Linked DNA regions of Homo sapiens. The protein of the gene in region 2 binds, or shares a complex with, the protein of the main gene of each other region. Each region holds a gene or a part of one and is shown on either strand. Other genes may lie near its edges. The genes, in order: CCNA2, E2F1, TFDP2 and RB1. A codon is read from its position in the direction of its gene.

Evidence for each region.
Region 1: the proteins of E2F1 (region 2) and CCNA2 are in contact, whole or in part, in a crystal structure (PDB 1H24), measured with the Homo sapiens proteins. Residues at the interface, in NP_005216.1 of Homo sapiens: Val88 (codon at 2,983), Lys89 (codon at 2,986), Arg90 (codon at 2,989), Arg91 (codon at 2,992), Leu92 (codon at 2,995), Asp93 (codon at 2,998), Leu94 (codon at 3,001), Glu95 (codon at 3,004); in NP_001228.2 of Homo sapiens: Met210 (codon at 4,794), Ile213 (codon at 4,785), Leu214 (codon at 4,782), Trp217 (codon at 4,773), Glu220 (codon at 4,764), Val221 (codon at 4,761), Glu224 (codon at 4,752), Arg250 (codon at 4,674), Gln254 (codon at 4,662), Tyr280 (codon at 3,622), Ile281 (codon at 3,619), Thr282 (codon at 3,616), Asp283 (codon at 3,613), Thr285 (codon at 3,607).
Region 3: E2F1 (region 2) and TFDP2 share a complex: the UniProt entries of both Homo sapiens proteins name them as parts of the DRTF1/E2F transcription factor complex.
Region 4: the proteins of E2F1 (region 2) and RB1 are in contact, whole or in part, in a crystal structure (PDB 2AZE), measured with the Homo sapiens proteins. Residues at the interface, in NP_005216.1 of Homo sapiens: Ala267 (codon at 5,932), Pro268 (codon at 5,935), Pro269 (codon at 5,938), Glu270 (codon at 5,941), Thr271 (codon at 5,944), Gln272 (codon at 5,947), Leu273 (codon at 5,950), Gln274 (codon at 5,953), Ala275 (codon at 5,956), Val276 (codon at 5,959), Asp277 (codon at 5,962), Ser279 (codon at 5,968), Glu280 (codon at 5,971), Asn281 (codon at 6,069), Phe282 (codon at 6,072); in NP_000312.2 of Homo sapiens: Ser829, Arg830, Ile831, Leu832, Val833, Ser834, Ile835, Phe845, Ile848, Met851, Val852, Asn854, Ser855, Arg857, Val858, Leu859.

The regions. Positions count from the first base shown.
Region 1 is NC_000004.12:121,815,915-121,820,883, forward strand, and holds the end of CCNA2 (cyclin-A2), read right to left. Parts: intron 4,852-4,969; coding exon 4,628-4,851; intron 3,666-4,627; coding exon 3,458-3,665; intron 3,000-3,457; coding exon 2,886-2,999; intron 2,264-2,885; coding exon 2,130-2,263; intron 1,773-2,129; coding exon 1,724-1,772; 3' UTR 943-1,723; coding exon of another isoform or gene 858-942; 3' UTR 534-857; downstream 1-533. Other genes in the region: EXOSC9 (exosome complex component RRP45), read left to right, coding at 230-280, 455-533, 858-942. UniProt on the Homo sapiens protein: Cyclin which controls both the G1/S and the G2/M transition phases of the cell cycle. Functions through the formation of specific serine/threonine protein kinase holoenzyme complexes with the cyclin-dependent protein kinases CDK1 or CDK2.
Region 2 is NC_000020.11:33,676,370-33,683,398, reverse strand, and holds part of E2F1 (transcription factor E2F1), read left to right. Parts: intron 1-2,982; coding exon 2,983-3,073; intron 3,074-3,424; coding exon 3,425-3,644; intron 3,645-5,045; coding exon 5,046-5,198; intron 5,199-5,857; coding exon of another isoform or gene 5,858-5,858; coding exon 5,859-5,973; intron 5,974-6,068; coding exon 6,069-6,294; intron 6,295-6,419; coding exon 6,420-6,667; 3' UTR 6,668-7,029. UniProt on the Homo sapiens protein: Transcription activator that binds DNA cooperatively with DP proteins through the E2 recognition site, 5'-TTTC[CG]CGC-3' found in the promoter region of a number of genes whose products are involved in cell cycle regulation or in DNA replication.
Region 3 is NC_000003.12:142,146,534-142,153,999, forward strand, and holds the start of TFDP2 (transcription factor Dp-2), read right to left. Parts: upstream 3,012-7,466; 5' UTR 2,650-3,011; exon of another isoform or gene 2,581-2,649; intron 1-2,580. UniProt on the Homo sapiens protein: Can stimulate E2F-dependent transcription.
Region 4 is NC_000013.11:48,306,727-48,313,755, reverse strand, and holds part of RB1 (retinoblastoma-associated protein), read right to left. Parts: intron 6,477-7,029; coding exon 6,350-6,476; intron 1-6,349. UniProt on the Homo sapiens protein: Tumor suppressor that is a key regulator of the G1/S transition of the cell cycle. The hypophosphorylated form binds transcription regulators of the E2F family, preventing transcription of E2F-responsive genes.

The DNA.
Region 1 (4,969 bases), on a different chromosome or scaffold from region 2:
GTTCTAGAGTGCTCTAAGAAGCTGATTTAAAGAAAAGATTAAGCCTCCACCTAGAGTTTTATTTTTATTTTTTGGGATGGAGTCTTGCTCTGTCACCCAGACTGGAGTGCAGTGGCACTGCAACCTCCACCTCCATGGGTTCAAGCGATTCTCATGCCTCAGCCTCGAGTAGCTGGGCCTACAAGCACATGCCACCACGCCTGGCTAATTTTTCTATTATTTTTAATAGAGCTGGGGTTTCACCATGTTGGCCAGACTGGACTCGAGTTCCTGACCTCAGGTAATCCACCTGCCTCAGCCTACCAAAATGTGGGTATTAAAAGTGTGAGCCACCACGCCCAGCCCCAGAAATAAGAGTTTAGAACGTCTGATAGAAATAAATTCATGTAGAAATAAATTTTGCAAGAGATTGCTTAACTTTTTTTTTTTTTTTTAAATTAATAAAAAAACAAAGATGCTCCCATAATACTCTCAGATAGTGAAGAAGAAGAAATGATCATTTTGGAACCAGACAAGAATCCAAAGAAAATAAGGTAACAAATTTCTGGTTTATTTCAAATGTATACATATACTCAACACTTATAGAGGTTTGCTCTCTGGTTTTACTCTCATCTTGCCACATGACTATAAACAAAAAGACATCCCTTTTTCATTAGAGATCCATCTGTTCTGTGATTTTTTTACCTTGTGATTTATAAAAATTAGGACCTAAATCTATAATATAAACTTCTTGGATGCCAGTCTTACTCATAGCTGACACATTTTAGATCCTACTGGAAAACTAAGAAATGCCTCTTATTTCAATAATCCAAAACTTAACATACTCTTAGTAAATTCTTACTTTGCTTTATTCACAGAACACAGACCACCAGTGCAAAACAAGAAAAAGCACCAAGTAAAAAGCCAGTGAAAAGAAGAAAAAAGAAGAGAGCTGCCAATTAAAGCTAACAGTTGTATATCTGTATATATAACTATTAAAAGGGATATTTATTCCATTCTGAGAACCCTGGGTATTTTTTATTCACAAATCCATTATAAAATCTAGCAGGATTTTAAAAATAGTTTTTTGTTTTTAATGTGCTTTAAAATAATAAACCTTCTGGAGCATTTCTCGTCTGTTAATTTGCATATAAGCTTCCCACCCTCTTCCACTCCCAACCTCTGTTGAGTTTACCTCGCAAAACCTAAACAAACAGGTTTTACAAAGAGCGAAAAAGTCTGGGGAATCTCTACTGTATCTATCTCTGAATACTGTATTCAGATATGCTTAGATTAGATTATGCCCAAGTCAGCAAATTGATCCAGTTGCTTAGGAAAATGAATGTCAGAATTTGAGGGTCTGTTTTCCTAAACCTACTTTAATTTTAGAGGAAGGCTTTTCACTTCCCATTATATAGTAAACCAAGTAAACTTCTTTACTAAGCAAAATCCTGAAGAAGTTAAATTTGACTTGCAAAGTTTTCCAAATCAATTTATTATCCTGACAGCTGGCATCATTAATACTTTAACAAAACCACTTAAAATTAGCCAAATATCTAAGACAGATACATATACAAAAGATATACAAATTAAAACCATTTAAAAAGTAATAGATACCATAATTTGTACTTGGCCACAACTTCTGTATTCAGAAATGATTGTAAAATTAAAACCTAAGTTAAAAACTGTACACCATATACTTTGAGTGATTTACATCTTAGAAAACAAAGGCAGTCTTTCATTGTTACAGATTTAGTGTCTCTGGTGGGTTGAGGAGAGAAACACCATGATACCTGTAAGTAGGGAAAAAAAAAGCATTTTTAGTAAACACTCACTGGGTAAAGGAGATCATGGAATAATGTTTGTACTCATGTATTGGGAACTAAAAAATGCTATTTCTGTCTGACCGACTTGATGGTTTTAGAAACACTGTCTGGTCCCTGAAACACACATGCATGCCCCCTTCCTTCTCTCTTCTCCCCCAGACCCAGGGCAGAAAGCATGAACTACAACCTTCTTCAAACACATAACCAATTTAGAGAACAGCTTCTCAAGGAGGCTATGGCAGATTCATGAATAAGGTTAAAATGTCAAAGATCTCTGAACCATAATCTAGAAAAGTAAGCTTCAATATCCAAGTTAATTCTTACTTTGAATTTTTGTACTTTTCTCTTATTGACTGTTGTGCATGCTGTGGTGCTTTGAGGTAGGTCTGGTGAAGGTCCATGAGACAAGGCTTAAGACTTTCCAGGGTATATCCAGTCTTTCGTATTAATGATTCAGGCTACAGAGAAGGGAATAGAGAACCCCTGAGTTTTGCTTTTAGTAACACACCAAACACAGTAAATAGTTGGCATTAAGCTTATGTTAAATTCCAGTACTAATCTTTAACTTTTCCAACTACTAGTTTTCTCAGGCCATTATTCCATCCCTCGATCCATTTTCTACTACTTTCCCTGCCAGCAACAGGTCAGATGCTTTTAAAAAAGCTCACCTTTCAATCCAAGTTACAACTAAGCTTACTACCTAACAAACACTGTTCAACAGGTAACATGCCTTAAACAGTATATAATCATCCCTCAGTGTACATGAGGGATTGGTTCCAGGACCCTTCCCAAATATACCCAAATCTGTACATATTCAAGTCCTGCAGTCACCCTTCCATATATATGGGTTGTGAATCCCCTGAATACTGTAGTTTCAGTCCACATTTGATTGGAAAAAAATCCATGTGTAAGTGGACTCACACAGTTCAAACCTGTGTTTTTCAAAGGTCAACTATATATATTTGAAGTTTTTCCAAGTAAGAACATCTAGGCAACCCTCAGTTTTGTAGGACAATTATTATTTAATCTGGCACAGGCATTTCAGTCACAAGATAGGTGTGTGAAGACCGTAATACATACCCAGCTTTGTCCCGTGACTGTGTAGAGTGCTAAATGAAAGGCAGCTCCAGCAATAACTGATGGCAAATACTTGAGGTATGGGTCAGCATCTATCAAACTTAATTCTCCCAAAAACTGGAATAAAAAATACTTTATGATCACAAGAGCGTTTAGAATTCAAATGTCAAACCTCTGCCTTCTAACCTAATTTTTTCCTGCCTTTGATAACGGCTCTGTAGCAACTCTAGAAAAAATATCTCACAGCCTCATCTTTAAACATATCAATCATTTTAGTGTTTTGTTCCATCCTCATCCTGTATTTTCCCTCCTTTATTAACTTTTAAAAAACAACTCTTCTGACTACCCATCCCCAAGATGTCATCCTTAGACCTCTGCTTCTAGTGCTTTCCTGATATAGATTATCTTTTGCCAGCAGTAGGCTTTCTTCCATACTGCAGCATTAATCTCCCTCTGAATACTAAATCTCTTCACCACTGCTGTACAAAGGAACTAGGTTCCTTTACAAAGGAATTAGGGCTTACCCCTAATTATTACCAAAGAATCACCATTCAACAAAATGAAAGTTAACTCACCATTGCTAAACTTTCAACTTTGCAGTTTGCAGGCTGCTGATGCAGAAAGTATTGGGTAAGAAACTGATTTACTGTTGGAGCAGCTAAGTCAAAAGTAAGGACTTTCAAAACTAGATGCTCCATTCTCAGAACTTGTTTCTTGGTGTAGGTATCATCTGTAATGTACACAAACTCTGCTACTTCTGGGGGGTATATTTCTTCAAACTTTCTACAATGAAAAAAGTTTTAAGTAATCAGTCCTAAAAGAGAAGCAAGCTTCCTTATCCCAGTTCTGAAATCCCATTAGCAGAATATGGAATGAATCCAAAATCCACACCAACTGCATTTCCAGACACTTGATCATCATTTCTAGTAGAGACTGGATAGCTAATTGCTAATTAAAAGGCCCAAATCAATAAAGGACTTTTGAGATATTTTCCCCAGTTCAGTCAAAGGAAGTAAATGAAAGGCATGAGACTTCTCGAGATGGGAACAATGCCAGAGTTCACCAAGTAGCTGAAAATTTAGGAAATACAAGTCTTAGGAAAACATGTTTCATGTTTTCATTTTTAAATTTAGTTTTTCTTTCTTTTTTTTTTTTTTTTTTGAGACAAGAGTCTTGCTCTGTCGCCCAGGCCAGAGTGCAGTGGTGCAATCTTAGCTCGCTGCAACTTCCACCTCCTGGGTTCAAGCGATTCTCTTGCCTCAGCCTCCCTAGTAGCTGAGATTACAGGCATGCATCACCATGCCCAGCTAATTTTTGTATTTTTAGTAGAGACAGGGTTTCGCCATGATGGCCAGGCTGGTCTCAAACTCCTGACCTCAAGTGATCCGCCCACCTCGGCCTCCCAAAGTGCTGGGATTACAGGCGCGAGCCACCGCACCCAGCCTTTACTTCTTAATAAAAGAGACACTGCTTATATGCCAGAAAGTAATATTGGAAGGAAAATGTTTTAAAATTTGTAACCTAGTGTACTATATCATGTTCAAGGAATCCAGTTGGGGGAAAATTAGTGTTCTAGATTAGAACAGTTTCATCCTCCTCCACTGCCCTAAGCCCCAGCACATTGCCATCCCTAAAGTAGTCACTGACTCTGCCTGGTGTATGTTAAAAGGTCACCATTAAAAAAATCAATTTCTTCCCTAGACAAAAGGTCGTGATCACTTTTAAACAAACCAAGGTAGACTTACGAGGCTAACAGCATAGCAGCAGTGCCCACAAGCTGAAGTTTTCCTCTCAGCACTGACATGGAAGACAGGAACCTATCAATGTAGTTCACAGCCAAATGCAGGGTCTCATTCTGTAGTTTATATTCTTCTCCTACTTCAACTAACCAGTCCACGAGGATAGCTCTCATACTGTTAGTGATGTCTGGCTGTTTCTTCATGTAACCCACTTTAGGTTTACATTTAACCTATTGAGAAAATTATTTATAGTGTTAAAATTATTCTAGTGTAAAAACTGCAATTAGATTATTTTACCATTAATTACGAGAGGCTACATGCTATAAACTTAACTGTAGCATTAGAATA
Region 2 (7,029 bases):
GCTCACCGCAACCTCTACCTCCTGGGTTCAAGCGATTCTTCTGCCTCAGCCTCCCGAGTAGCTGGGACTACAGACGTGCACCACCATACCCGGCTAATTTTTGTATTTTTGGTAGAGATGAGGTTTCACCATATTGGTCAGGCTGGTCTTGAACTCCTGACCTCAAGTGATCTGCCCGCCTCGGCCTCCCAAAGTGCCAGGATTACAGGCGTGAGCCACTGCGCCTGGCCAAAAACTTAACTCTTAAGAAACTAGAAAGTTGACGGCAGGATCCCAGCCCTATTCATTTTTTTCCTTTTTTTCCCTAAGGCTATTTTTGTTTGTGGTGGTTGTGACAGTTTTTGTTTTTTAAAGTTTTAAAAATTGTAGTTTTTCCTGTATCATTCACACCATTCAGATATGGCACTGGTCTCCCACAGTCCTTCCAGAGGCTGCCCCGAAATGTATTCTATAATAATATAAACTGAACCAGAGAAAAGTTTCATGAGCTTTTTAATCCAAAAGGGATCATATAAATATATCGCCCTGTGACAGTGTTTTGCTTGTCTGTATGTGTGAGGGGATTCTTGTCAACCTGCCTCGGTCCTTGACAGCTGCGTGGTGTTCAAGGGGCTAAACAAAGCACAGCTTTCGTGACCCCCTTCATGGATGGGTGTTCGAGTCATCCAGATTTTTTCAGCAGTGAATGTCTTCACCCCTGCGTTTCGGGGCCCCTCTGCCAGTGTTTATCTAGGGAGAAGTGGCAGAAATGGCATCCACTCAAGCCTTTGTTTTAGGGCGTGGCACTGACCTGCCTTCAGGGGTGGACAAGGGTGGGGATCCCAGGGAGAAGGCAAGGGGTGCAGATGGCAGAAGCATGCTAGGGTTTGGGCCCCAGGGGCGAGTATGGAGGGGGATACATTCTGGCTGGGTTCTGGGGAGGTGGGGCACGTGGCGGGTATGAGTGTGGGCTCTGTACCAGCCAACTAGGGTGCAAGTCCTGGGTCCACCTCTCACTGTGTGGCCTCTCTCAGGTGGAGGCCATCATAGCACCTGCCAAAAGGTGGCCGGAGGGTTGCAGGGGAAGCAGTTGAGTACACAGTGCTTAGAGCACAACAGCTCTTCTTTCCCCTGGGTGCCTTCAAAAGTCAGTGAATGTGCACAAGAGGGAGTGGTTCATCAGCATGGGGGGGGTTCATTCAGCAAACATTTGTTGATGCCAGGCTCCATGGCAGACACTATAGATTCTCAAGTGATTCAGACACCTCTGAGGGTGAGATAGATACATCTGCAGAAATGTGTAGGGAGAGACAGAATGTGGCAAAAGGTTGGGTTTGAGGCAGTTCAGAGGGAGAAGAGGTGACACCTCCTAGCTGATGCGTAAGGTTTCTGCCCACAGAGGTAGAGGGAGCAGGCGTGAAGTGGGGAGGGTGGGAGGGATGCAAGGGCAGTCTAGATTTCTGGGAAAACGTGACTCGGGTTCCTCTAGAGAAGCAGTGGCAGATGAGAGTACAAAGGCAATGGGGAGCTGGAGGAAGGCCTTAAGCAGGGGCGGCGGCATGGTAAGGTTTGTAGGAGGACTGGCTGCAGCAGAGGCAGGGAGACCAGTGTGGAGTCTGCTCAGCAGCCCACTGGGAAGGTGGTGATCGCCGTGGTGATGAGCAGTTCTTGGTAGCTGCATGTGAGGAGGGTGACAGGTCAGGAACTCTAGCTCAGGAAACCCTGTGGATGGTGGAGGGGAAGATCAGTCTGGTTTTGGTCCGGGTACTTTTGAGCAGCCTGTGAGACCTCCAGGACAGTCCCAATCCTGGAGTGTCTGAACTAAGCCAGAGTGCTTAGAGCTTGGGTTCTTCCTCAGACCGTCTTGGGTACAAATCCTGACTCTACCACTTCCTGGGCCTCCCTGGGCTTTAGTTGCCTTATCTGGAAAATGGGGCCATTTTTATACAGCCAGTCCGTTGAATGGAATGAACTAATGGATGCAAGGAACTTGATGAGCACCAGCTGCTACCATGCGTATAGATTAGTCAAAAACCAGAGAGAAGGTGATTTAGCCAAGGGACCTATGTAATCAGTGGCTTAGCTGGGCATGGTGGCTGACTAGTCCCAGCACGACTACAGTGAAGGCTGAGATGGGAGAATTGCTTGAGCCTAGGAGTTTGAGACCAGTCTGGGCAACATAGGGAGACCCCATCTCTACGAGAAATAGAAAAGTTAGCTGGTCTTGGAGGGATGCGCCTGTGGTCCCAGCTGTTTGGAAGGCTGAGGTGGGAGGATTGCTTGAGCCCAGGAAGTCTAGGCTGCAGAGAGTTGTGATCATACCACTGCACTCCAGCATAGTCAACAGAGCGATACCCTGTCTAAAAAAGAAAAAAAAATAGTGCCTTAAAACAACAAACATTTATTATATAGTTTTTGTGGGTCAGGAATTCAGGGAAGACTTATCCAGCTCTGGCTTGGGGTCTCTGGAGATTCAGCCAGTGTTTGGGTTCTGGCTGCTAACAGAAGTTGTGACTAAGTGTTGCTGTTGGGAGGAGGCCATGGTTTCTTGCCCATCATTAGGGCTACTTGAGTGCCCATATGATATGGCAGAGTAAGTGACCCAATACAGAGCAAGGAGGAAGCTCCAGCGCCTCTGACCCAGTCTCAAAAGTGACAGGCCATCCCTTCCACCACATTCCATTCATTCATCCCCAGAAGCAAGTTACCAGGTCTGGCTCATAAGGGGAGAATTAGGCTATATCTTTTGAAGGAGAAGGATCAGAAAGTTTGCGGATGTGTTTTAAATCCACCGCTAGACCCCAGAGAAGTGGTGAAAATGGAATGTCCTGTGTGGTAGGACTGTGACTCTCAGGCTATGTCCCCTCTGATCTCCCTCAGTCACACACTCAGGCATCCTGCTAGAGAAACTGAGGCGAGGGTAGCCCAGAGGCACCCAGCCTTAAGCCAGGTCTCTTCTGGCCTCACTCCTGGTTACTGGGCATCCTCCCGTTTTCGCCACAGGTGAAGCGGAGGCTGGACCTGGAAACTGACCATCAGTACCTGGCCGAGAGCAGTGGGCCAGCTCGGGGCAGAGGCCGCCATCCAGGAAAAGGTACCTATGGAGCTTGGGCTGGGCAGACCCCCTGTGACCAGGCCCAGGTTAGGGATGTGAACAGACAAACATGCTTGCAAGCTAACGTCTGGCTTGTCGGGCTTGAGCCAGGCCTCTGAGGACCCTGATGGGCAGTTGGAGTGGCCACCTGGCTTGGTTTCTCCAGGCCCTGAGGGGTGAGGAGTTCCCCAGCCAGAAGAAGAATGCTGTGGTTGGCCTCGCCAAGGGGAAGGAGCTGGCTGTCCCCCAGCCCCCATCATCCTGCTGCCCTGCACTGCCAGAGTGGCAGGCCTGGCTGGAGGTGGGGGTGGATGCTGAAGGGCCCTGTCTTGCCTGACCACACCCCCACAGGTGTGAAATCCCCGGGGGAGAAGTCACGCTATGAGACCTCACTGAATCTGACCACCAAGCGCTTCCTGGAGCTGCTGAGCCACTCGGCTGACGGTGTCGTCGACCTGAACTGGGCTGCCGAGGTGCTGAAGGTGCAGAAGCGGCGCATCTATGACATCACCAACGTCCTTGAGGGCATCCAGCTCATTGCCAAGAAGTCCAAGAACCACATCCAGTGGCTGTAGGTACCGGCCACACAGGAGGGCAGGCACACCTGCCCATGCCAGCCTGGAGGAGCTGGTAGTAATACCCACTGTGGCTGCCTGCATCCCCATCTTATAGCTGGGGAAACGGGCTCAGAGAGGAGAGGTAGCTTCCCTGAGATGATAGATGGTAAAAAGCACACAAATCTTACATATCCACCTCAGTTGCAGCTTTACTTTTTTCTTTTTTAGATGGAGTTTCACTCTGTCACCCAGGCTGGAGTGCAGTGGTGTAATCTCAGCTCACTGTAACCTCTACCTCCCAGGTTCAGGTGCTTCTCCTGCCTCAGCCTCCTGAATAGCTGGGGATACAGGCGCCTGCCACCATGCCCAGCTACTTTTTGTATTTGTAGTAGAAATGGGGTTTCACCATGTTGGCCAGTCTGGTCTCGAACTCCTGATCTCAGGTGATCTGCCTGCCTCAGCCTCCCAAAGTGCTGGGATTACAGGCATGAGCCACTGCGCCCCGCGCAGCTTTATATATTTATTCATCTGGGTTGCCACCATTCAGATCAAGATAAGAGCATTTTCAACACCCTAGAAGGTTCTCTTGTGCCCCTTTCCAGTCATTGCCAACCCCTCACACCGCCAGGTCACCACTATCCTGGCTTCTCATGCCCTCGGTGAGATCTGTCTGGCATAGATATTTTATTCTTGTTTTATTTTCCCCCTCTCGCCTTCGCGCCAGTCATCATGCTACTACCCTTTCTTTGATACACCTGCCGTTTCATTTTTTGGTAGATCGTTCCATTCTGCATCTTTTGTGGTTTTTTGGGTGGAGGGGGGTGGTTTGAGACAGGGTGTTGCTCTGTCGCCCAGGCTGGAGTATGGAGGCACAAATACAGCTCACTGCAGCCTCAACCTCCTGGGCTCAAGCTCCGTACCTGTAGCTAGGACTACAAGTACATGCCACCATGTCTGGCTAATGTCTTTGATTTTGTGTAGAGGCAGAGTCTCACTGTGTTGCCCAGGCTGGTCTCAAACTCCTGAGGCTCAAGCAATCCTCTGGCCTCAGCCCCCCAAAGTGCTGGGATTATAGGTATAAGCCACCAAGCCCAGCCTTTTTTTTTTTTTCATTTGACAGCATGTCTTGGAAATGCATGTGTGTGTGCATGTGTAATATTTCGTGGCATGTCAGTCCCATCATTTGTTTATCCCGCCCTGGTTGAGGGACATGTAGGTGTTTATATTCGGGCCAGACTTCAAGCCCATGACACTCTGATTTGGAGCCCAGCTGAGGAGCCAGACCCAGACAGAAGCAAGGGCTTGCCTAGGCCTCACAGAACAGAGGCAACAGCAGACTCTGTCCTGAGGCCCAGGGCTCCTGGCCAGAGGGGCCAATCGCTGTTAACCCTACCCTCCCTGGTGCCTCCCCACAGGGGCAGCCACACCACAGTGGGCGTCGGCGGACGGCTTGAGGGGTTGACCCAGGACCTCCGACAGCTGCAGGAGAGCGAGCAGCAGCTGGACCACCTGATGAATATCTGTACTACGCAGCTGCGCCTGCTCTCCGAGGACACTGACAGCCAGCGATATCCTTGGATTGGCCGTAGGGTGTGGAAGGCAGGCTTAGCAGGCAGGGGCTCCACCCAAGTGGGACTAGAGAGGCTTGGATTTAAGAGAGAGCTCTGATTTTGGTTGCAAGTCCTGGCTCAGCATTTTCTCACTGTTGTGACACTGGATAAATTGCTTAACCTCTTGGCCTCAGTTTTATCTATAAAAGGGGAATAATAATATCCAATTCTGAAATTGTACAGATTAAAAAAGAAAAGTGGCTAGGTGCGGTGGTTCATGCCTGTAATCCTAGTGCTTCAAGAGGCTGAGGTGGGAGGATCACTTGAGCCCAGGAGTTTGAGGCTGCAGTGAGCTCTGGTTGAGCCACATCACTCCAGCCTGGGTGACATAGCGAGACCCTGCCTCTAAAAAATAAATTCCCAGCACCAGGCCTGGAGTTGTGTTGAACATTTTACATGGAATCGTTCCCGGTAGCCATTATTACCTTGGGATTCAATGGGTAGAGTGATTTCATTATACAGATGTGGAACTTGAAACTCAGGCGTGAGGTAGGTTTTGAGTGGGTAGGAGGTTGGGAGGACAGGAGTGACTAGGCAGGTGTGAGCCCTGCCTTGTGAGCTGTTGGAGTGAGTGACCCCCTAGAAGTCAAAGGTCATGTGGTCCTTGACTCTGCCAACCCTGGCCTACGTGACGTGTCAGGACCTTCGTAGCATTGCAGACCCTGCAGAGCAGATGGTTATGGTGATCAAAGCCCCTCCTGAGACCCAGCTCCAAGCCGTGGACTCTTCGGAGGTGAGATCTGGGAACTCCGGGCCCAACTGGGCTGGGCTGGGCTGGGCTGGTGGTCACCTGGGCCTCAGTTTACCCTGCCTGCTGCTTCCACCCAGAACTTTCAGATCTCCCTTAAGAGCAAACAAGGCCCGATCGATGTTTTCCTGTGCCCTGAGGAGACCGTAGGTGGGATCAGCCCTGGGAAGACCCCATCCCAGGAGGTCACTTCTGAGGAGGAGAACAGGGCCACTGACTCTGCCACCATAGTGTCACCACCACCATCATCTCCCCCCTCATCCCTCACCACAGATCCCAGCCAGTCTCTACTCAGCCTGGAGCAAGGTGGGTGATGGGTAGGTGGGTGGGGTGGGGCAGGGCCCCTCTTCTGGGGGGTGGGCAGGCACGACAGCCCCTGCCTTCCTCCCTGCTGGGGCATCCCCGGCCTGTGATGCTCCCCGTCTCCCCAGAACCGCTGTTGTCCCGGATGGGCAGCCTGCGGGCTCCCGTGGACGAGGACCGCCTGTCCCCGCTGGTGGCGGCCGACTCGCTCCTGGAGCATGTGCGGGAGGACTTCTCCGGCCTCCTCCCTGAGGAGTTCATCAGCCTTTCCCCACCCCACGAGGCCCTCGACTACCACTTCGGCCTCGAGGAGGGCGAGGGCATCAGAGACCTCTTCGACTGTGACTTTGGGGACCTCACCCCCCTGGATTTCTGACAGGGCTTGGAGGGACCAGGGTTTCCAGAGATGCTCACCTTGTCTCTGCAGCCCTGGAGCCCCCTGTCCCTGGCCGTCCTCCCAGCCTGTTTGGAAACATTTAATTTATACCCCTCTCCTCTGTCTCCAGAAGCTTCTAGCTCTGGGGTCTGGCTACCGCTAGGAGGCTGAGCAAGCCAGGAAGGGAAGGAGTCTGTGTGGTGTGTATGTGCATGCAGCCTACACCCACACGTGTGTACCGGGGGTGAATGTGTGTGAGCATGTGTGTGTGCATGTACCGGGGAATGAAGGTGAACATACACCTCTGTGTGTGCACTGCAGACACGCCCCAGTGTGTCCACATGTGTGTGCATGAGTCCATG
Region 3 (7,466 bases), on a different chromosome or scaffold from region 2:
ACAGGAAGGTTAGCCCCAAAGTTAATCTTCTTAACTAGTAAATTATTATAAAGTAACAGTGTAATGTGGTTGCCAAAGAAGCAAGTCTACTCTTAAAGTACATGCTTTAAAATTAGAGAGGTAACTTAGTCTTCTATACTAGTTAATACCTAATTTGGGGTACCATGCTTGTCAGAAGAATGTGGATGAACTAAACAAATCCACAAGTGGGCTATGAGTTCTGTGAGGAGATGTGAATGAAAACAATGACACAAAAGTCACTAGCAGAGGTTAAAGACTGAGAATATTTTCTAACACTCAGTGGAATATAAGTATCTTCAAATAGTTGAAAACCCACAATACAGAAGAGACAGTGAGGACACAATTTCTAGTTCAGTGAAAGAAATAATTTTATAAAAATTAGAGTTGTCCAAACATGGCGAGGTGTGTGCCTATAACCCCAGCTACTTGGGAGGGTGAGGTGGGAGGATCACTTGAGCCCAGGAGTTCCAGACAAGCCTGAGCAACATAGAGAAACCCTGTCTCAAAAAAAAAAAAAAAAAGAATTGATCAAATATCTTTGCCTCAGAAACTATGACACTATAAATAGTCTCTCCAAAAAATATACAAATATGCATAATTTTGCATAATATTTCCAAGAGTTCACAAGCCTACTTTCATATCTATTCATGCCGCACACCTAGAGTCATGTATCCCAGATTAAAACGGAAAGGATTTAAGTATGAAGAGGTGAGTGTATTTGATTCTCTTTAAAATCCACTACAATTTAAAATTCTATGATCTAAAAGAACTCTCAATCTATGCCTTCTAGTTTCTTCTGAGATCCATTATAACACATATTGCAATAAGAGTTTAAAAGATGATGACAAGGAAGTACATCCCACTTCATCAGTTATATTGAGGGCACACGGCTCAGACAGTTAAGAATTTTAGCTGCCAGAGAAAAACTTCCATGTGCCACTTGGACTACACATTCACAAGAGTCAGGGTGGGAGGAATTACATGATCACAAAATGAGAATATGAAGTATTACACACTGCAAAAATTCAGCTTTCCTTTTTAAACACCTAGAAATGAAGAGAACTGAAAAGTAAGAGTTTAGTAAGTCTTGAACCTTTTATTAACAAATGTAAGGGCCACAGTGCTCAAACTGCAACTGCACAGCCAGAACAACGCTACAGACACCATGTCTACTCTTAGACTAGACTAGTTACAGGCACAAGATGTTCTAATAAATAACAAACACATCCAGAGCCAGTACACAAGTGTGACAGAATCTGGGGTCTAGGCATTTGATTTTTCTCCTGGTGCTGTCTGAGAATGGACACTGCCATTAAAGATTAATTACAGTAATCTGATAGTGATAAAGTTTAGCTAAATAACAGGCTAAACAATGAAATGGAAAAGGAAGCTGCAATATAGATCAATTAAACTATTTTTATATCTACTTTTAAAGAGAGACAGGGACATGATTATGCCATATAGAAAATAGATGAATATATATTCACGAGCTGAAAAAAAAAACAGGTAAATTATTTATTAGGTGAAGATAAATTCAAGCCATGAAGAGAAAACACATGGCCCAGAAAAAAAAAAAAGTAGGTTGTGCAAGTCAAATGAAAAGACACAAAACTCAGATCTCGGGGAGACAGGGGAAGGAGAAGGCTGAGCTAAAAGAGAGCCTTACTGAAAGAAAGCAAATAAGTGAGAGGGAGTCTGTGCCCTCTGAGATGGAATGAGGAAAAGATAAAAGTATTCATGGGCTCAAAGGCAGCTTCAGCAGTGAATATGGAAAAGGAATGAGCCCGTTCACTGTCTCAACACTAAAAGGGAAATAATATAGGGTCTTTTTCTAAACCAGCATCCATGGCAGTCAATAATAAAAGTGCCTAACTAATGCAAGGCATTTAATACGTGGAGGATTTTCTTACGATTGCATTCCATACATTAGTCCATTCACTCCCCGAAACACACCGAATAGGTGGATGCATCTAATTTACAGATGAAGAAACCGAGATCACACAATGGGAGATAGCACAGGCTGGTAAGAGAGACTGGGGCGCTCATCCACTTCGTTGTACTGTCTCTCAGCGAGATCCTAGGAAAACCCTTACACTTCTTTGTGAAGACAGACCTTGGCTTTCCAGATTTTCTCAAAGGAGTCTGGGCCCAAAAAGCGATCCTCTACTTCAGAGAAAAGTTCCTTTATGGGGCATATGAGGTTCTTCCAAGCACACAAAGCTTAGAAACTCTTTAAAAACAAACAAAACACCTGGTGGACACAGAGGCCTGTGAGTCATGAAAGGAGAAGGGAAAAATCGGAAAACCAGATTTAGAAGCCATCCTTCTTTGAAGAGAACGAGAAAGTAGAAAGCAGCCCTTCCCCTCTTCCACGAGGCGTGACTCAGGGACGTTACCTCCCCCGATTTGCTCTATGCACTAAGAGGGTGACCCTCCTCTGCTTTCGACTCTGGCCCAGACACTCACGGGTTACCCGGCCAGGCCTGGAGAACCCAGGTCTAAACAGATGGGACTCGTGGGGGAACAAGGGGGCCCCTGTGCGCAGGGAGGGAAACCTACCCAGGAACGCGCCCGGCCGGGTCCAAAGGCCCTCCGCGCGCGGGCCCGCGCCCTCGCCCCAGACCTTACCGCCTTCGGCTGCAGAAGAACTGGCGGCCAAGCGAGGCTGTCGGGCCGAGCCAGGAGCGCGTCTTCGGGCGCCGCCGCTTCTGTGGCGCCCGCGCTTAGGCGGCGGCCGGGTCCCGGTGGACTCACACCCGGGGAGACGCGGCCTGCCCGGTCAAGGCCCAGGAGTTTGAGGCCCCAGAACGCCAACCGTGCGCGCGCCCTCGAGCCTGCCCAAAGATGAAGGGTCAGGGCGCGCCCCGCGGGCCGGGCAGCTGCGGCAGCGCCGCAGCCGAGATCGCTACCGATTTCGTCCGCCCTCTCCCTGCCCAGCTACAGCCCCGCTTCCCCCGCGCGAGCTTTGGCGGCGGAGCAGCACAGTGCGCGCCGATTGGCCCTCAGAATGTGCGACGCCTGGCGCCGCTCCCCACGGATTGGCCGGGCCGGCAGTGCGTGCACGGAGTAAACAAACCCCGCCCCCAGGCTTCCCTTTGAGAGTAGGGGGCCAACAGATGGAGGGGCGGGACTCGTGCACTCAGCCACCGCCCCTTGGTTCCCCCTGTGGCCTCCCTGGGAGCCCTCCGCAGGACCCGACCACCCCGCTTCCCCGCCGCCTCCAGGGACAGCTGCGGGCCTGAGGCCTAGAATTTTAGACACACTTCCTTCATCACTCCTATCTCATCCCCCCTACTCCCACCCTGCGACTTGGGTGGGAATCTCTTTTCCAACTGACCCCGAAGCCAGAAAACCCCAGCTCTCTTGGAAGGAGGGGGACTGGGGCAGTTCCATTCGGTCCCCAGGCCTTTGCGGGGTCGCCCTGGGGGAGCATCAATAAGGGACAGGGGGGCGAGTGATCGTGATTGAGGCTATGCGTGGGGCCAACTGTGGGACACCTTGAAATTATTCAGACAATGAGTTAGAGACCACTGGGAATGTGGAGGTTCTTCAATATCAAGGCAAGTTAATACCCAAACCAGGACAGGTCATTCTGTCCCGCGGAAACTGCACACACCCCAAATACCCGTACACTTGGTTCCATATGAAAAGATTTTGTTCATTCGTTCGTGCCGAAGTTAAAAACCCCGTGTGAACAGCGCATTAAAACGATTAGATCTTTCTCATTTTACTCCAGTCAAATCTTATAGATCTTCTATATGCCACTTTGTTTGTTTTTGAGACGGGGTCTTGCTCTCACCGAGGCTGGAGTGCGGTGGCAGGATCACGGCTCATTGGAGCCCTGACTTCCCAGTCTCAGGTGATCCTACCACCACAGCCTCCCGAGTAGCTGGGACTACAGGCCCGCGCCACCACACCCGGCTGTTTCGCCATGTTTCCCAGGCTGGTTTGGAACTCCTGGACTCAAGAGATCCTCCCGCCTGGGCCTCCCAAAGTGGTGGGATTACAGGCGTGAGCCACCACGCCCGGCCCCAAACACTATTCTTGATATGGGGAGACATCAGTGGACAAAATAGAGACAAAAACTCCTGCCTTCATGGAGCTTACATTCTAGCAGGATGGGAAAGATAATATGCAAAAGAATACGTAAAACAAAAACTATATTACATGCTGGTATGTGTGCTATGGGAAAAAAATATAAGCAGAGGTGTTGGAGGAATGGCTTCAGTCCTAAATAGAGTGATCTGGGAAGGTAGCACGGAGAAGGTGGTATTTAAGCAAATGCCTAAAGGAGATGAGATAGGTAAGAGAGCACTTTCAGATCTTTCTCTGGGGCAGGGTGGAGAGACAATTGTATGCATAATTGCATGTAACTAGTCCTGAGAGTCCAAGAATGTCAAATGCAGTACTCCACTGACTGATTCTAAAATGCAAAAACCCCAGTGATTACTTCACATTCTCCAGTAACAAATCAATAAAAATTTAGTTTCCACAAAAAATATAACTTTAAGAAAACTTAAAGTTATATTCAACAAATACTTTTCACTCTAGGTACTACGTATACAAAAATGAGCAAGACAGACAAAACATCCACCCTCAAGGAACTCAGTGTAGCAGAGGAAATGGATTGTAAACCACCTCAATTCAATGCGTAAATAACCATGATGGAAGTACACACACAAAGTGCTTGGGCTAATGTAGGGAAAGGGGTCGCTGTCATAGAGGAGCTGTAACTATCTTAGGATCTCTTTATCTATAAAAGATAGTACTAAAAGATTCAGTACTAAATTTGGAGTGAAGTTATGGCTATGAGGGATTCCCTAACCTCTTTATAGGTCAGAGTCTGAAGATACTAGGTTGAACCACATGAAATTGCTGATATTGGGCAATTTTCATATGGTTCAACTTACTCTCTTGCAGAGGTAGTATGAGGATTTTGCTATGTAATGCATGTAGTAAGTGTTCAATAAATGATGGCAATTATTATATTCATCGTATAATATAGCTTTTGAAAATAAAGATTTAAAAGTCAATGTTTTATAACACCTTCCAACGCCATTACATAAAATGGGCAGTGAAAGTTTCAAATTTTCCATATCCTAGTTTGATTTAGTTGTGAATTTCCATGACCTAATCAGGGCATGTTGTAAAAGACAGTAAATGTTAGTTTCACAGCAGGCCAAGAAATTCAGAATAAGGAGGAACAGCTTGGTTTTTAAGCCAAAAACTGAGAATTCTCCAGAACAGAATAAATTGTCAAGTTGCTACAGGGAAGAAAATTCATGTAAATCAATTTTTCATTCCCACTCATAGTTCCAATTTAGCAATTTGCACAACAGTCAGCTTTCTTTCTTATTTCCCCATTAAGGGATCTTATTTCCTTTGAAAAGGAAAATAAAGTTTCCACCATCTCCAATGCCAGAGAGTAGACATCTGAAATGTGACAGAACATTTATTGATTCTGCAAACATTTATTAAGCACTTATTGTATGCCAAGAACTATGCAAGGCACTGGCAATACAAACAGATGTCCAAAGAGCACCATTCATTGGCATTCCTTATGCTTGGAACAATCCCCCAGTTCACCCACAACTCACCTGCACATGCCTTTTCATCTAAACTTAAACAACACTTTCTCCAGAAAAGCTTCCCCGGAGTCCCCATCTCCAACTGTTTTCCCATAAAATTTTCTTTGACTTTCCAACATTCATTAAACTTGTAATTACTCACTTGCTACCTGCATCCCATTAGACTGTAAGCTTCTAGAGTCAAAGTCATATCATTCTATTCACTATCATCTCCTCAGTGCTTAATGGAAGTTCAATGTTTTTATTGAATAGATGAGAGTCCACAGCCCAGCAAATTTGGAAAGAGGAGAGAGGTATAATAAAGTCTACTCTATTTAGAAATATGCGGGCCACAGAATAGCCAACACAAAGAGGGTTGTGAAAAAGACGGGTCCATTACAGTTAAACCTGAGGCATTTCCACGTGCTGCCCCCTCTGCTGGCACTGGATACTGCTTTTGCAGGTGGAAGTACCAGACTCCTGGACCACTGCCTCTCAAACCTTGAGGTGCACAGTAATCACTTAGGGAATCTTACAATTCAGTCTGTAAGGTGTGGCTTCAATTCTGCATCTCCAACAGGCTTCCAAGTGATGCTGGTGCTGCCTCAGCAGCCAAAAATCACACTTGGAGTAAGAAGGTCCTTAGTGACACCTTTTATCACATGAAAAGATCTGCAGTTGTCAGAACAGTTTCAGATTTTTTTTTAAAGCATCTTCTTTTCACACCAAATCCATCTAGTGACTGACAAAAGAAATAACACTTATAAGTGTTAAATCTGGGTCTTGCTTCTAGAGACAATCCTGTTATGTACAGTTTAATCACCTTAATAGGACAGAGTAGAGGCGAAGCCTCGGAATTTCCTCAGGGAGGGATTCAACCTCTCCCCAGTTTTCTGGAATGACTGCATTAGAGCAGTAGAAAGGTTTCAAAGTCACCCTTAATAAAAGTAACCCCTTAATATCAAACCTAAAATATTTTTAGGATAAAATATTTTATTCACCCTAAAAAATATAAAGTAAATGTGAGATATGAGGAATCATGATAAACCCTCATGTACCTGCTTAAGCAACATATTATTAACACCATTGAAACCTCATGTGCCCCCTACCAGTGTGTCCCCACAACTTTCCCTTTCCAAAATAACATCTTAAATTCTGTGTATAATTTCCATGTTCTTCTTTATAATCTTAACACACGTGTATGTATATCCAAATAATATATTGCTTAGCTTTTCATGTTTTTGAACTTCATAAATTTAGAATAAAATTTATTATTCATCTGCCAATCTTTTTTTGTTCAACATTTTAAGAGGGTCATCTATCTTGATGGGTGGTCATTCATTTTCACTAATGCAAAAATAACATTTACATACTCCATTCTATTTTATTATTTTTTTTTTAATTTTATTTTGAGACAGACTCTTGCTCTGTTGCCTAGGTTGGAGTGCAGTGGTGCAATCTCAGCTTACTGCAACATCTGCCTCCCAGGTTCAAGTGATTCTCTTGCCTCAGCCTCCCAAGTAGCTGGGATTACAGGTGCGCGCCACCAATCCCAGCTAATTTTTGTATTTTTAGTAGAGACGGGGTTTCACTATGTTGGCCAGGCTCGTCTCGAACTCCTGACCTCAAGTGATCCGCCTGCCTTGGCCTCCCATAGTGCTGGGATTACAGATGTGAGCCAACATGCCCGGCAGATAATCCATTCTCTTACTGAAAGGCATTTGGGAGTTTTTACCTTTTTTCATATTCTGATGCTATGAATATTCCTGTCTCCTTTGTACATGTGAAATTTTCCACAGGGTCTTAGATTATGAACAGGGGTGACAGTCAAAATATTTAACAACTGGTAATGCACAGATCTTAGCTGGTTCTCCTTCC
Region 4 (7,029 bases), on a different chromosome or scaffold from region 2:
AAAAAAAAAAGAATAAACATACAGAGCAATGGAATAGAACTGAGACTCCAGAAATAAACCCTGGTTTTTATAGTCAACTGATTTTCATCAAGGGCACCAAAACAATTCAATGAAGAAAGAATAGTCTTTTCCATAAGTGGTGCAGAGACAACTGGATATCCACATTCAAAAGACTGGAGTTAGACCTCTTCCTCACATCATACACAAAAATTAACTCAAAAAAAAAAAACAAAAAAAAACCCAAGACTGACAAGAACTAAAAACCATATGACTTTTAGAAGAAAGCACAGAATAAGTCTTCATGACCTTGGGTTAGTCAAGGCCTTCTTAGATACAACATCAAAAGCCCAAGCAACCAAAAAAAAAACCACCACCAAAAAAAAAATAGAAAACTGGACTTCATCAAAATTAAAATCCTACGCTGCAAATGACATCATCAAGAAAGTGAAAAGGCAACTCACAGAATGGGGGGAAAAGTCTGCAAATAATATATCTTATAAGAGATATGCATAAAGGAGAAGCTTTAACTGCATCTTAAAAACAGAATTTAGGCTAAAAGAAAAAAGAAGGGTATTCCAAAAAAAGGGGAGATCGCATGAATATGAATACTATCATATTCATATGGAAGATATTCATATGGAAGATTCATATGGAAGGGAAGAGAACACAGGCATTGGGGGCCAACAATGGAAATAAAAAATAAGACTGGAAGGAAGGTTAAAGCACAGACCATGAAGAACTACAAATACTGAGAAAGTTTGGACTTTACTTCTTCATAATGGTGGTGGGAGCATGGGAGGGTGTTACAATGGAGGCTACTGAGAGTGGGTTGTAACAATGAAAAATAAATTTTAAAGCAAAAGGGGCAAACTGTACACCAGTCTTTTCTAAAAATCAGGCACAGGATGGATTGGATGGAGAAAAGAAGAGACTAGTCAGAAAGAGGCACTAAAACATGCATAAAAAATGCTCAAGTCAATGACATAAGCTTCCACCTTCTGAAATTAAAAAAATAAAAAGGAAATTAAAACCAAAGCAAACAGTAAAAACCAAGCACTGCTGGTAAAAGAAATGAAGGGACAGACGTGAGAGGCAATGCAAAAAGATAACTTGAGACTGAACGGATAGGTTTAAAATAGAAGGAGTCTGGTATAGTTTTAATTAGTCCTATGGACAGACACTGAATACCAAGGTAAACCTGTAAAGAAAGCAAATGGTAGTGTAAAATTCCACTTCTTCCTAGAATGCAGAAAGCTGCAAAGAGTATTGCTCCCACCCTCACAACAAGAACAAGCCAGATAAGGAACAAAAACAACCTTTCTTGAAATCAACATATCCTTTCCTTATATTTCAGATTATTTAATTTCCCCTAAAAAAAGGAACCTCCAATGAGAGAAAAGATATAAATAATGGCTCATCTGTGGCACAACATGAAAGGAAGAGACACAGGGAACCCTAACAAAAGTAAAAAGTATTCAGCTAAAAATTTTTAATGAATGCTGATTACAAAACAACAAAAATCCATTTAAATATAAAAAAGAAATAGGTTAAAATCAAAATGAAGGTAAACGATACACATTGTAAAGAGTGATCACAAGAAAAGTGGAATCGATATGTGGACACTGCAGAACAAAAGATATAAATTTGGATAAAAAAGCACATTACATAATGATAAAGGTACCAATTTACCTAAAAGGCATAAAAATTCTAAACTTGTATGTACCCAAGGATAAAGCTTTAAAATACACTAATAAAGGCCAGGCACAGTGGCTCACGCCTGTAATGCCAGCACTTTGGGAGGCCGAGGGCAGATCATGAGGTCAGGAGTTCGAGACCAGCCTGACTAACACGGTGAAACCCCGTCTCTACTAAAAATACAAAAATTAGCCGGGTGTGGTGGCGCATGCCTATAATCCCAGCTACTCGGGAGGCTGAGACAGGAGAATCGCTTGGACCCGGGAGGCAGAGGTTGCAGTGAGCCGAGATCGTGCCACGCACTCCAGCCTGGGTGACAGAGCAAGACTCCATCTCAAAATAAAATAAAATAAAAAATACATTAATAAAAAACAGAATTTAAAAGGACCATTCTAATTATAGTTGGAGGCTTCATATTTCTCCCTCAATAATTAGTAAAACACATAGAAAGAAAATCAGTAAGGATATGGATGATCTACTGTACCTTTTCTATGTATAGATATACAAATACTTACCATTGTGTTACAATTGCCTACAATGTTCAGTACAGTAACATGCTGTACACATTTGCAGACTAGGAGCAACATGCTATATACCACACAGCATAGGTGTGTCATAGGCTATACCATCCAGGTTTGTGTAAGTACATGCTATGATGTTCACACAACGATGAAATCACCTAATGATGCATTTCTCAGATGTGTTCCCATTGTTAAGCAACACATGACTGTATTTATTTAAAATATAACCACCATATCACAAAAATAAGTAAGTGGTTCTATCAAGAGCAATATATCCCAAAGCTCTTTGAGATATGTATATCATACATTTCATATACATATATATGTATGTATAACAAAAAGCCTATGAGGTTCACATTCAGGCATTATTTCTGCCTTACAGGTGAGCAAACTGAGACTCACAGAATTAACCAATTTGCCTAAAATCATATAGCTACAATATAATTACAACCAAAGTTTCCTGCCTTGAGGTCCAAGGCATTTTCCATTCTACCATACTACCAATCAAGATGCAGAAAGTAAACCAAAATTCTAACAGCTGATTCACCTTAAGTCACAATATGAACATCACCTTAGCCAATTTCTTAATGGAAAGTCCTATTCATATGCTATAATCAGCATAAATACAATCTAACCTTATGAACAAAGCTAATCTTTATTATTACACTTTACTAAATATTTATTTTAAAAAAAGAAAACACTTTTCTAGACAAAATACCACAAACTTTTCCTTTAAAGGGATTAATATATGCTTTCATGTATGCATAAACAACTTTTCTGATGCTAAAGTACTTAAAAATAAGAATTTTAACAAACATTACTACATCAAAATCACTACAATGCATTTAAAATTGTAACCATTTTAACTGATATCCTAAGTTCTCCTAAAAAAAAATACATCAATGATAAAATTTTCTGGGGTATTTCTTAAGTAAAATTATTCTGTTTGCAAGACCTAATATACATACTCATTGACTCTAATAAGAGCTTTATATGCATTAATTTATTTAATCTGCACATAACTCCAAGATCCAGAAATTACTGTCAGTCCCTTTTACAGGTAAGAAAACTAAGGCTTGAAAATTGTAGATAACATGTTCAAGATAATGGAGTTCGGACATGGTATATCTGTTTGACTCTTAATCCTTGCTCTTAACCCATCCTCTATCCCAATAAACATCACCTACTTTCTATTGTTAAAAAGGGTTTCCTTTTTGACAATATTCCTCCTCTTGTTTCAAAGAAGAGAGACAACTGCCACTAGAATAGCTGCACTGGAAACACATTTATTCTGTCATTACATTTGCTTCTTAGAACACACTGTATCACATTCTCCCTTAGATATTATTATATAAATGAAGGTTAAATTCTCAGGCCAAACCTCAAAAACGTAACTCTAACTTAAAATCATATTTCAAGGAAAAGTCTGTTGATTTACAACAGGACAACAGGACATCATCTTCCATCATACCCTTCAAAAGCACACCTCAAATCCCAAAAATAACATGAAATTCCTTTCTTACCTTCCTCCAGTACCTAGCCATAAATAATTTCACACATCCTAGTCCCCATTATGAGCTCCATTAGGAAATAAGATTCAAACTGGGCCAGTTCCCAGGGAAGGTAGAGACAAAGCCAGGATGAAAAAGGGTAATAAAGCAGTAACATTTGCTTATATATGTATTCAATTCTGAAGCTCAAAAGAGCCTCTACTGTTAAAACTATTATTGTTATAGTTTAGTACAAAAAAAAATAAGTTATGTGAACCAGGCTGGAAACCTAACTACTATATCAAACTTGCAAACAGATTTGGAACACAATGCACTTATAAATTGAAAACTACAGTATGTATATTCACTAATGCTCTTTATAATCAGCTATCCCTTCCAAAATTTCTGAACACTAAAAATCTAGTATTTTAGGAAGAGAAAAGTGAAGGAGCTCTGATCCCATTTAATTGTATATGCACAAAAACAGCTTTGTACATGAGGTACCCAAGTCAGTTAAAATATACATTAGATGCCTGGGGATTATAATACCCAAGTCATACATTCAAGATACTTCAGTATTCCTCTCTTTTTACATAAGAAATGTGAGACTATGTTCAATTCTTTGGAAATCATGACACTTGTTTTCTCCTTTTTACTGCCAGAGATTTTATTTAATGGTTTTAAACAATTTTCTTATGGGACATACATAAACACATTCCGCTGTGTTAATCAGATCAGTAAAAACAGATATATACTCTTATACTACTATGTTGAGAAAGTAAATTCATTAAAAGTATCTGTCTGAAGTGTAATCTAGCAATAATCATCAAGAGTCATAAAAATGTTCATAGCTTTTGATTTAGTAATTCAACTTATAAGAATTTATTCTAATAAAATAATCAGAGATTCATTCATTAATTTATTTAACAAGTTATCAAGGACTCACTTTGTGCCAGGCATTATTCTTACGAATACAAATGTTTATTACATTATTTTATAGCATCAAAAAGTTGGAAAAAACCCAAATATCCAGTAAGAGTTAACAAATTAAAATACATCCACTAGCTAAAATATTATACTATCACTAGAAACTATATTACAAAAAAACTTTAATAAGAAAATGCTCATATGAGAAAAAAACAGGAAAATACAAAACTATGTGTAACTACAGGTAACTATACATAACTACATGTATAATCTCAAATTTATATTTGAGATCTTATTTCCTAGGGACCTTGGTCAAGTTACTCAACCTCACTCTACTCAGTGTCTTCATCTGTTAAATGAACATTTCACATTTTACACATAAAAAAAGATTTTATATTTCATATCTCAATGATTTTTAAATGAGTTATTCGTAGATTTGTAAAGTTCTGGGGTTTTTTTTGTTTTTTTTTTGAGATGGAGTCTTCTCTGTTGCCTAGTCTGGAGTGCAGTGGCATGATCACGGCTCACTGCAAACTCTGCCTCCCAGGTTCAAGCAATTCTCCTGCCTCACCCTCCCAAGTAGCTGAGATTACAGGCATCTGCTACCATGCCTGGCTAATTTTTGTATTTTTAGTAGAGATGGGGTTTCACCATGTTGGCCAGGCTGGTCTAGAACTCCTGACCTCAAGTGATCACCTGCCTGGGCCTCCCAAAGTGCTGGGATTACAGGTTTGAGCCACCACGCCCAGCCTTATTTTTATTTATTTTTTTTTGCAACAGGGTCTTCCTGTGTTGCCCAGGCTGGAGTGCAGTGGTGCGATCTTGGCTTACTGTAACCTCCACCTCCCAGGTTCAAGTGATCGTCCCACCTCAGCCTCCCAAGTAGCTGGGACTATAGGCACACACCACCATGCCCGGCTATGTAAAATTCTTATACTATTGCCCCAGTACATATAAAACTCTAGTAATTATTTGCTCCTTTTATTAAACATATACATCTATACTTACGCAAAGAAAAAATGAAAGGAATATATCAATATATTTTCAAGATCCTGAATTCTAACAAAACTAATTCTGAGTCAGTCAGGAAATCTGAACACTGATTGCATATTAGAAGGTATAAAAATTATTTTATAAGGTATGGCGGTGTTTTTTTAAAAGTCCTTGTATCATAGTGAATAAAATATAACTAAGACCTGCTTTAAAATAGTTTGGTGGGAGGCATTTATGGAGGAATTTTTTTCAAACTTTTTTTTTTTTTGAGACAGACTCTCGCTCTGTTGCCAGGCTGGAGTGCAGTGGCACGATCTCGGCTCACTGTAACCTCCACCTCCTGGGTTCAAGCAATTCTCCTGCCTCAGCTTCCCAAATAGCTGGGACTACAGGCGCACGCCACACCCTGCTAATTTTTTTTTTTTTTTTTGTATTTTAGTAGAGACAGGGTTTCACCATGTTGCCCAGGCTGGTCTCGAACTCCTGAGCTCAGGCAATCCACCTGCCTCAGCCTCCCAAAGTGGTAGGATTACAGGCATGAACCACCGTGCCCGGCCTCAAACATTTTTAATGTTAGCAGAGGTAAATTTCCTCTGGGTAATGGAATTATTATTAGCTTTTATTGTCTTTATATTTTTCTATCTTTCAATTTTTGTATAGTGATTTGAAGTTGTTTTTAAAATGAGAAAAAAAAATTTCAAAACGTTTTAAGAAAATCCTTACCAATACTCCATCCACAGATGAAACTTTCTCCCAAGTTAACCAAGCTCTCTCTCTGACATGATCTGGTATCTTTAATTTCTGACATAATGCAGTAAAATCAGGTTCTTCTGTTTCTTCAAACTCAAGCCTACCAAATGAAAATAATCATATAATTGGCATATACTTATAAATCAAATTGATTCAGTACATACTTGTTTCAATAGTTTGCACATAACACTACTGTGAAAAAGAACATTATTAAATACTTTAAGATCTTATTTTATCTTAGAAAAACATTACACTTCAAATTTAAACATATGATTATCTTTTTCATGGTCATTCCAAAATAAGGATACCACACAGTGAAAAATATTTGCTTGCATGGTAAGTCAAATATACTTCAAAGCAGCAAAACACTTCTGTGAAGGAAAGTAAATGTAATAGCTAAAGCTGTTTGGGAAAATAGGATAAAGATAACAACAAAAAGATAAAAACCCATAGATAATATTATACAATTCAACGCCAGTGACTTTGTTAAACTGTAGTCTTCTCTTATCAATGTTTCATATATCTCTCTACCTACTAGCACATCTTACATGATGCGACTGCTTATTTTTGTCCTTTCCCCTTAACAAAGACAAGCATTTAATAAATTCTTGTTGGCTAATTCATTTTCATTCATCTAATTTCTATGTGTTATC